Homo sapiens: one gene and its partner. The protein of the gene in region 1 purifies or fractionates together with the protein of each later gene. This does not show direct contact. Each region holds a gene or a part of one and is shown on either strand. Other genes may lie near its edges.

Region 1 (6,101 bases):
TTATGCCAAAAATCTTTTAATTTTTGTGTAAGCAAATGTATGAAGTCTTTCTTTTATGTGCTTTGCCTTTAGTGTCATGCATAAAATGTCCCCTTTACCTCAATTATATATAGTAGCCCATATTCTCTCCTAGAATTTTGTGCTTTGTATTTTAAACTTAAACCTTTAACATATAAGATTAACATGTAAGATTTGGTATTTTAAGTAAAACAGACACTTAATTTTAAAATTTTCTTAGATGGTTAACACATTGTCAAAAAAATCCCACAGTAAATATATACCCTATTCATCACAGTCACTACATGTTAAACTCACCTATATTTAATCTCTCTCTCTATATATACATGCATATACACACAAGCATGCATATGCAAACACATATCTGTAAATATATCTGCGTGTATATTTATGTAGATAGAAACAAATATAAATATTTCTGTGTCTGTACTTTCTATTCTATGCCACTGATCTGTTTGTCTCCTCTGGCAATCATTGCTGTTTTAATTAAATATTTTACCTTAAAAATATCTTCTGATTTAGTAAAGCAAGGCTGACCCCTCCCCTCATTATTACTCCTTTTTTTTTTTTCTTTTCTGTTCTTATATTCTAAATTTTTTTTGGCTAGCATTTTAAGATGTTTCTTAGTTTTTGTTTTTCATCAACAGGCCCTTTGTCTTTTAAGTAGCCTTAATATTCTACTGTCAAGCATTCTTAGAATAGGTATCTAGTGTACTAAATGGAAATGCATAGCACTTAGTGCTGAGGAGTCCAAATGCCATGGAATCCCTGAAGAAATTATTGTGACCAGCATCAGTGGTGACTCTGAGTACTGACAACTTGAGTACAGAAGGAGCAGGAAGTGAGGCAATGTGAGGGTTCGACTGTGATTTCACATGGCCACACCCCAATTTATTTATGGAAAGTGCATGTGACATCTATTCACATATGTTCCTATCTTTATATTCTCCAGGATATGCCAAATAAAGTAACAACGCCAAAGGCAGTCTGTTTTAGAAAATCAATTAGAAGAGGGTAAAATGCAATCTTATGCACAAAATAGAAACTTAGCTCTTCTGACCCCTGGTATAACGTTGGATAAAACAAGCTAACGTTTTTAAGTGTTTTGAGCAGTTGACTCAGTCTAACTCGTTTTGTATGAAGTATTTTCCAGCATGGTGCAGCAGTGAAACTGTGTGCCCTTCTTGCAAACAGGTAAAGGTATAATTTTTGAACAGTTTTTGTTTTTTTGTTTGTTTGTTTTTTTTGTGGGGAAAATGAATCTACACCGATTCATTGACAATGTTGTCCAGTAAAGCCTCATGAGTAAAGGTACGTAAAAGGATGATCAGCTAAAATGAGACATGAAGCCTGTGGCTGAAGAAAAATATAATGTCATTGGCACACACGGGGCTTGTACCCAGGACTATGGCAGTGTTATCACCACGTTTTAATCAGTCACAACTGACATCAACGTGACCCCTGCTATATAGATTATCCAGCCTGGTTGGCATTCCAGTCTTAAAGAGTCAACCTCTCCCAGCTTCACTGATGTGTGATGGCATTTCACCCACTGCCATTCCAACCCTGTCCCCTAAAGAAGAGCATTCATGAGGTGTTATAAGTAATTGTTCCTTATTCATCATCAAAGTTCTTTAGTAAAAACCAGGAGTGACCAATAGACATTCACATGTCTTTGCTTAATTCTATTAAAAAAGACTGAAAAACTTCTCTGTACACCCTTTGGAAGTCTTTTTGCTTACTCAAGAGCAGAGCATAATCTATTTAATACAATTTTTCACTTATATCCAAAAGGTGGCCTTCTCTAATCTGGCTTTCAAGTTGGAAAGAGAAAAGTTAAGTTGATTCCTGATGGATTTTGCTCTAAAATTTAACCCTCGGGCAGTGAAAGCCTCTTTATCCCAACTGAGTAGCTGCTAAATGAGGCCCCTTTATAACCACTTCAGAATGCACTTTCAAAACAAAAGTTAGAAGGCCCTATGATCCATTCTCAAGAAGGATCTGTTTCTGTTCAAAACCAGTCCCGACCTTTCTGTTGAAGAAGAACAAAATAATGTAGTAACAAAAACACAAGTGGCTGCCAAAGGAAGAGAGAGAAAAAAAAAGAGTTCCTGTAAGGGACTGAAACAATAAATCTCCTCTCTGCTGAACTCCCAAAGGGAGTGTGTGTATTTCCTCCCGTTCTTTATCAGAGCCCCCAAAATAAGTAGGAATGGGCAGTGGCTATTCACATTCACTACACCTTTTCCATTTGCTAATAAGGCCCTGCCAGGCTGGGAGGGAATTGTCCCTGCCTGCTTCTGGAGAAAGAAGATATTGACACCATCTACGGGCACCATGGAACTGCTTCAAGTGACCATTCTTTTTCTTCTGCCCAGTATTTGCAGCAGTAACAGCACAGGTATTTTTGTCTCTTATTCCTCTGGTGGTACGGATTGGAAATCACTAGTAGGTGACTCAGCCTCAGTTTACTTTCAGGGATCTTCCCCTGACACTTAGATGCAGCAATTCCTTTGATGAGTTGAGTGTTTGGATGTTGACTTGGAGTGCGTGGAGAAGGCTTGAGAGAGACGGTATTTGTTTCTACTGAAGGGAAATGTTTGCGGGTACAGCAGCCTGAAAGCATGTTCGATGAAATCACAAAGTACTGGAAATATACAATGGCCTCTTTAGAGTATAAAAATCTGGGAATAGAATGCTGGTTAAAAATGTACTCTCTCTCAAAAATGTATTCTTTGCAGACATAGCTCAGAAATAATAAGATTGGCATGTGTGGGTGAAAGGCTGTAATCGGAGACATTATATTGCAGATGTTAGCCTGTATTTTTCCCAACTATTTTTCAGCTCTGATAAATTGAGGAGTTGAGTAAAGCTGCCTAGGGAAGTGAGTCCTAATATTTTGAGGTAGGGTGAATAGAGAGAGATTCATTTGATTACAGTCTATAGATTTTTGCTGAAGAAATATGCACATATCTAAACATATACATACATTTTGCATAACATTTCAGGAATTTATAAACATAAAAATCCTACCTATTGACTTCTGGTTAAGAAACTCAGATAAAAAATAGGTTTGTATCTTCATAAGCCTTGAGTATATCAATGGACAATTTCAAGAACGATTTACATTTGACTTTTAACCCTTCCTGAGTGATTGAAAATAAACTGTTAAATTTAATCAATATTTATTAGGTTCCTACCCTGTACTGCAAGGAATATAAAAACAAGTAAGACGTCCTTGCCCAAAGTGGTAGAAGTACTACTGGGAGAAATAAGCATGTGATTTTAATATAAAATAGATTTAATAAGTGTGAAAATTGAAGAACAAACTACCATAAAAGAACACAATTGGGAAAGACTGATTCAGACTCTGAGGGGTCTTGGGGGGAAAAAAACAAAAACATTCATTTCTAATTTTATTTTGCTCATTCTCAATTTAAAAGATTACTGCCTACAAAATCTTAATTTACAGTGATAATGTCGGAAGAAAATAAGTACATCCCTCCCTGAACAACATTTTATCAGTCATTTCTATGTAAATATCTATGTAAATTTAGTACAAATTCAAAAACACTTCAAATTCACGCACATTTGCTCATCATGCATCTTGGAGTTTCTGCGGTTAAGTTGCAGCTGGTATCAAGGCCAGAAAATTTCACTTAGAAGAGTTACTAGAATCTGATTTTTTAAAATAAAGAACATTTATGTGGTACCACAGAAATTATTGCATTAGCTTATAAGTAACTTCGGTCTGCTTGGGGAAGATTGATAGGAATCTCAATCCCATGGAAAATATTGCTCACAATTAGATGTGTCAGATTAGTATAAAGTCTGAAAGTCTGGCTTAGCCTGCTCGCTGCTCCAGGTCTGCAAGCATCGACGAGTGCAATACTTTGCCGGCATTGTTAAACTCTGAATAGATCATTCGTTCTTCCGAAAGTAAAGTGGAATAGCATCAATAGAAGTAGCCTGCAATACCTGGCCTTAAGAAAGACATGAAGATGAAGGACAATCCAGAGATGTACTGGCAGGTTTTTCTGTTATGGTCATTTTGGGAAAATACAAACCTCCTTTTGCTCACTGGTAATGAGCTCAACCTGTTAACAGTTCTTCTTTCTAATGAACTGTTAACCCCTGTAGGATAATTTCCATTTGAGCAGAGACAATAGTTACATAATAACTATCTCCTTCAAGTCAGCCAACAAGTCTACTTGTTAACTGAAGGCCAGTATCTGTAAACAAACAAACAAACCAAACCTACTCCATTTGTCTTAGAGAGGAGGCTATGCTCAAGAGTATAAATTGACCATTTGAGTGGAGCATGAAAGGATTGGAAGATAATTTCCCATCTACATGTATGATTTTGTTGTACCTGGTTCTGCCTGTTTTTTTGTTTGTTTGTTTGTTTGTTTGTTTTTGCAGATTGGGCACAGGGAAGAAAGCATTTCCTAAGCTGACTGAGTACCTTTATTTTTCCTTAACCCCTAGTTCCAGATACACATTTGATTTCAGAGTTTTACATGTTCCTCAAACTTAGGAATGATTAACATATTTCATCAGCAAAGTTGATTCTTGGGGGTGAGGAGGGAGGCATTTCATCTGCCTTAAATTCACAAGCTGTCAAGCAGATCCATGCTCTTTTGCGTAGTAATTTATTCCTAAATAATTATCTTTTAGATAAATTGACTACTTTTCTTTTCTTCTGATGTTTTTGTCAGTCTCAGATTTAAATAACTACAATACAGTCTTTCATGCTGTTTGTGAAAATCAAGGGAATCTTTCTACATCACAGTCAGTGAGTTACTTTTTATTACTTGGTTGGTGGTATAATATTTTTTCAGTCTCCAATTTGGAAAGCTGTTCTATTGAAATGTGTATGGAAGGTTTCTGAAACGGAACTGCCATTCTTTCTTAAGGTTTTCTAAATTGTATTTAAAACTGAACAGACCCCTACCCTGGCGTTTAAATCTAGATGTATGGATGAGCTTTTGACTTTCAGGGCTGAGAGAAGTTAATGAAGAGAGATTCCTCCAAGAAGAAGGAAACAATATGCACTTACTCATCAAGTGCCACTTGCTTTTTGAAATTTGCCTTAACTTGGGAAATATTAAAATGTTGTAGGCATTCTCAGACAGGGACAAACACCATTTTCTTTATTGGTATATGAAGAAGGATTTAATTGCTTGGAGAAATTCCTTTGTTAGTGATTGAACATTCAATTTCATGAAAAAGAAAGATTAAACACACTATCAGCAGACTCCATGCTAAATATCGTAAGTTTATAGAACTTAATAAAAGTTAACCCTCACCGTAGAAGTGGGGGAGAGAGGAAGATGAGGGAAGTTATTATCAATTTGGCTATATTGTAGGCTTTAAGAGGTAAATAAAGAATGACATAGAAAATTTACAACTAGCCTGGTTTTGGATGTAAGGACATCTGAAACGGCTACATATAAAAGTGGAAATTATTATAAGCTTTGAAGCTTGAAAATCAAGAGGTTCTAGAGGAAGGGAATTTATTGAGTAGATACATTGAAACATTGGTATATTCTAGTCTAGAAACATAAAGAGGTCACAATTTGGGCATAGTTAAGTACTGAGAAATAAGATTGGAATATAGCCTCAGGAGATATTGAATACCAGGATGAGAAATATTGACTCATATAGTTAATTAGTTTGAGTCTGTAAATGGTTTGAGTATGGGAATTATATGATCATGGCTATAAAATGGGAAGACTAATCTGTCAGCAGAATATAGATTAGACTACTGGAGTCAAGAGAAATAAAAGGTAAGGAAACTAGGTCAACTGTCATTGCAAGTCTGAGAGTGTGTCAATAAAATGAAAAGAAGGGTCTAGGAAGAGCTTTAAGGAAGTAGAAAGTGTGTGATTTGACATATCATTGACTGGCAGTGAAGGAGAATGTGACTGAAATGCAGAGACAGAGTTTTTTTTAATACCAGAAATAGGAAAATGGCTTGGGAGCAGAGATTAGGAAAGATATGAGGAGACGGTTTAGTGAGAAAAATGGTATTTGGTTTTGGACATGGTGATTTTGTAATCCTGATATTTATGTAGAGATGT
Region 2 (4,548 bases), on another chromosome or scaffold:
GAGGGCATGCTACTCAAGTTCTCTGAGCTTCAGGAGAGAAAAAAAATACTTGATTGGTACCTCATGGGGCTGTTGTAAGGAACAAATGAGATAGAGTATGTGGCATGATTTGTATTATAGAGCATACAATCCAAATATGAGCTAGATAAGGCATAAAACGTGCAAGTACTACATACAGTGTTTCTAATTATATTACAGCTTTCATCTACGTGGTGTTCCACATTTTATATTTAAGCAAGAGCTTATAAGATTGACTCTCTCCCAGTTATCACAACTAATGAACTCTTAATGGGCAGCTACAAATATAGATTTTATCGGAAGGAGGAAATTAAAGTGATCAAGGAATTATTTTTTCTCCCCTGACATGTAAAAAGTAAAGAGACTGCTAATTAGAAAATATTTAGCTGTTCTTTATAAGTACCTGAATGGTCTGAATTTTCTGAGTATTCATTCTTCATTCAGATATAGGAAATGAAAAGTCAAAACCTTCTCTAAATATTGTCATTCAATGGATGTATCTCCTGGGCAAAAATGTAGTTAATTTTGTTTGTTAGAGCCATATACTAAGTGCTAGGTTTCATAGACAAGAGGCACAAACTGAGGTGCTTCCTTGCTTTGGTTTTGTAGTATAGCATATTTAGAGCACATCTAGAATAATGCTGTAAAAAGGAATTGCCTGAGCTAATAATATTATAAGAAATTGTTTATTCTGTTAATACAAGTACATAATTTTCTGCAACTCAGTTATTTGCACTCAATTATTAACTCCTTGAACATGACTTCAGCTAATGACTGCCACTCTGAAGAGATAAAATAGGATTAATGATCAAACTCCTTTATTTCTAAGGAGTGATTACATATGCAAATGAAAGGAGTAGTAGCATTTCAAATAAGTTCCACCAGAGAGTACTTTTCCTTAACCAATATCCAGGTATGTTAATGGGTACCTTTCCTTTAGAATGTTAACTTCGGGGTCCTAACTTAAAATCTAGGTAGCAAAATTAAAGGTGGTAAGAGCCAGGCTAAAGAGGACTAATTGAATTCTCTCTGTGGCCTTTGCTGTTAATAGTTCATTTTCTTTGTGTCCCACTTTACTCTCTTTTTCTTTTAGCCTTTTTATTTAAAGACTTAAGTATTTACCCTTCGAAAATCAGTGTCGTTTCTGGTGGGGAGAGAAGGTATTCACAGAGATGAGTCAGAGGCACATACAAATAACTTGTAATACAAAGTTAGATGTTAATGAAAGAAAAGGAAATGTTTATCCTACCTCATCCACAATACTAGTAAACTAAGTACTTACGATTTTTTAACTGTTTGTTTCTTCATTTGTGTAGCCAGACCTTGTTTCTTTTCCCCAGCTATCGTCAATTTGCTGATTAGGTAAATTCCTCACTGGTCTTTCTACAGGTTTCAAAAAGGAACAAGGTAGATTTTCAGAAACTGTTTTGGGTTGAAAATTATATATTAAAATGAAAATGATATAGTACCTGAAGACTGCTAGTAAATTTTGCTACAGTAAATTTATGATAGTTACCTTCTGTTGCCTGTAGTTGAACTGGAAACCTGACTTTGTAGGTTTTTTGTCCTTGGTTTCTAAGATCTGTCAACTTTTGATATACCCTCCTCTATATCTTTGGTCATCTAACTTCCCAACATGCATACACATAAATAGTAAATACAAATTAGTGATTTTTATAATTATATTGCAGGAAGGTTGTATGCTTTTCGGATGTTGGATTTTTATAGCGCCTTCATCATCTTTAGTGTTGGTTTCTTCCTTTGACTTTGTATATTTCTCCTAAGCCCCACTGATTTCTTGGTTATTTCTTGGTTACAGGCTGTCATGGTGGTCACCTGATCCTTACCTGATGTTACTGGTTACCTTGAGATTTTATCAGTGTCTGTGGTCTCTTCATCAGTTCTCTCCAAAGGTTTCTCTCACTGATTATCTTTCAATATTCTTAGACTTGAATGAAGCAGTCCCAGAGACAGAGCGCCTGGATTCAAAAGCACTGAAAACTCGAGCCCAGCTCTCTGTGAAGAACAGACGCCAGAGACCCTCTAGGACAAGACTGTATGATAGTGTTAGTTCCACAGATGGGGAGGACAGTCTAGAGAGAAAGGTGAGCACCCTTGACCGTTTCCTGATTTGTACTGTTGGAGTATATCATTGTTCCTACAGCTTATTGAAGATTATGATTTTTCTGCAAACAGAGTCTATGTCCTAGTTGGTAAGCAGCTAGAATAGTTCACGTCTTTGTCTCCTGAATTCTTTATATTGTTGTAATTCAAAATATTTTGTCTATTCATTCAGTGAACTAACCAAGAGCATTATCTGTATTGTCATATTTCATGATGGTGCTTTTGATATTCAGCTATTGGTTTTACTTAGTGGGAAATAATGAACGTACAAGTAATTGTTTCTGTAGGTCTTAGGTATATGTATTAGTGACGATGTTAATATGGTGAATTGGTATGAACCATGCATTCTCATCTGTAAATCAACAAAAACTGGTTTTCATGGGGATTCACTAATAAAAGGTTGGTCTTATTTCAAAGTAAGTATTGCATAGAACTGATACTCAGTGGCATAACCTTCCTTATAATCTCTTATACCAACAGCCATCAAACAGTTTCTATAACCACATGCATATTACCAAATTACTTCCACCTAAGGGTTTGAGAACGTCTTCTCCAGAATCAGATTCTGGTGTTCCACCCCTCACCCCGGTGGATAGCAATGTGCCCTTCTCGTCTGACCACATAGCTGAATTTCAAGAAGAACCACTGGACCCAGAAATGGGGCCTCTCTCCTCTATGTGGGGAGACACTTCACTGTTTTCTACTTCAAAGTCTGATCATGATGTGGAAGAATCTCCTTGCCATCACCAAACCACCAACAAGAAAATATTACGAGAAAAAGGTATTGTTAATTTCTTTTTCTGACTTCATAACACCTCAGCTTGTACAGTATAAAAATGACTTTTTCTCATAATCATAAGTCATTTGTTTTCTCATAGCTAATAATTAATATTAATTTCTTTTTATATTATAGAATAAGAGAAACAACCCCTCCATGTATTTTACTTTAATTTAGTTTTATCTTTTCCTATCTGGTTCAGTATTTTTATCTCTTCAGCTCTCTATAAGTTTACTACTCAAGGGAGTTCTTCAGGGGAGTGGGGCAGCCCAGAGTTTCAACAAACACTAACACAGTCATAAAGAAAAAAACACTACATAGTCATATAGAAAAATATAGAGCGATTTTGTAGAATAGCAGCCCAGAGTTTCAGTAAACACTAACGTAGTCATATAGGAAAAAAAGACGAAGATCAAAGTAACACAGGCATATAATTGATACTTAATAATGTTCTTGGATGAATTGCTAATATACCTCTCCACGTAACCAGTGCAGATCTTCTAGAAGAGGGATAATCAACCGAATGTAGTCTCCACCTGCTTTTGTAAATGAAGTCTTATGGGAGTACAGTCACACTTTTTTACTTACATACTATCTATTTTCATGCTACAGTAGCAGTGTTGAGTCGTTGTGACAGAGACTGTGTATCTCACAAACCTAAAATATTTTACTCTGTGGCCCCTGAAAGGTAAAGAAAGCTTCCTGATGCCTGGTCTAGAAGTATATTTTCTTATACTCAAAATTGCTGGATAAACTCTGAAAATGGCTTCATCATTGGTTGCCATTTATCTAGAATTTTTAAAAAGTGTTATACCTTTACTTTTGGTCTATCAAGTTACCACAAAGATGATTAATTACAGCCATGTTTGATTGCAGGCTTGAGGATAAGGCTCTGGTTACCCTAACAGGAGTTGGCGATTTTCTGAATTGTGTCAATACCACATTTACAAATCATTTTTTTTCATATCTGAGGGACATCAGTGGAAATTAGGATGGAGAAGTCCCATTATAACTGGCTAAATGATAAGCATCTAACGGAATATCAAATTAGAGGAAGTAAAAGATTTTTTTCTAGAGATTTGTAAAACAGGTTATATGCCAGTAGAAGGCATGAAAATATTTTCCTCGTTCCTGTTATATAAACAACCTAATACTAAAGTTTTGGTCCCGAGGCTTACATAGCACTGGGCCTTTGTTCAGTCAAGATTAAATAAAGTAAATTGAACACTATCAATTTTCTACTCACAATTACTAGAGATTATTATTCTAATTTTTTGTGTGGTTAATAACACATTATTTGACCCAGAAGATGTGTTCAAAAATATTCATTGAATTAATGTCTAGTAAATAGAAACTGGCTTTTTTAAAGCTTTACAGGATTTATTGCTTATTAAAAGCATTGGGCCTCTGCAAGTATAGATAGAGTACAATTATATCAACGCTCAGAAGAGAGAGAGATTGCGTCCAGCTGAGGTTGGTAAACAAAACCTATCCAAGGAAGTACAATTAGAATAGCCATCAAAGCACTTAAGGGAAAAAAAGGGTAGGTAAGGAGGGAATAGCGGGTAAAGTGATGTCATTAACAGAGACAGGCACATATCATATGATTTAAAGGTACAAGGCTATCC

What was found.
Region 2: the proteins of EMCN (region 1) and PPP1R9A purify together in Homo sapiens (affinity purification with mass spectrometry; one large-scale study listed by BioGRID and IntAct). This does not show direct contact.

The regions. Positions count from the first base shown.
Region 1 is NC_000004.12:100,514,169-100,520,269, reverse strand, and holds the start of EMCN (endomucin isoform 1 precursor), read left to right. Parts: upstream 1-2,247; 5' UTR 2,248-2,355; coding exon 2,356-2,419; intron 2,420-6,101. UniProt on the Homo sapiens protein: Endothelial sialomucin, also called endomucin or mucin-like sialoglycoprotein, which interferes with the assembly of focal adhesion complexes and inhibits interaction between cells and the extracellular matrix.
Region 2 is NC_000007.14:95,266,585-95,271,132, forward strand, and holds part of PPP1R9A (neurabin-1), read left to right. Parts: intron 1-1,965; coding exon 1,966-2,123; intron 2,124-2,622; coding exon 2,623-2,923; intron 2,924-4,548. UniProt on the Homo sapiens protein: Binds to actin filaments (F-actin) and shows cross-linking activity. Binds along the sides of the F-actin. May be involved in neurite formation. Inhibits protein phosphatase 1-alpha activity.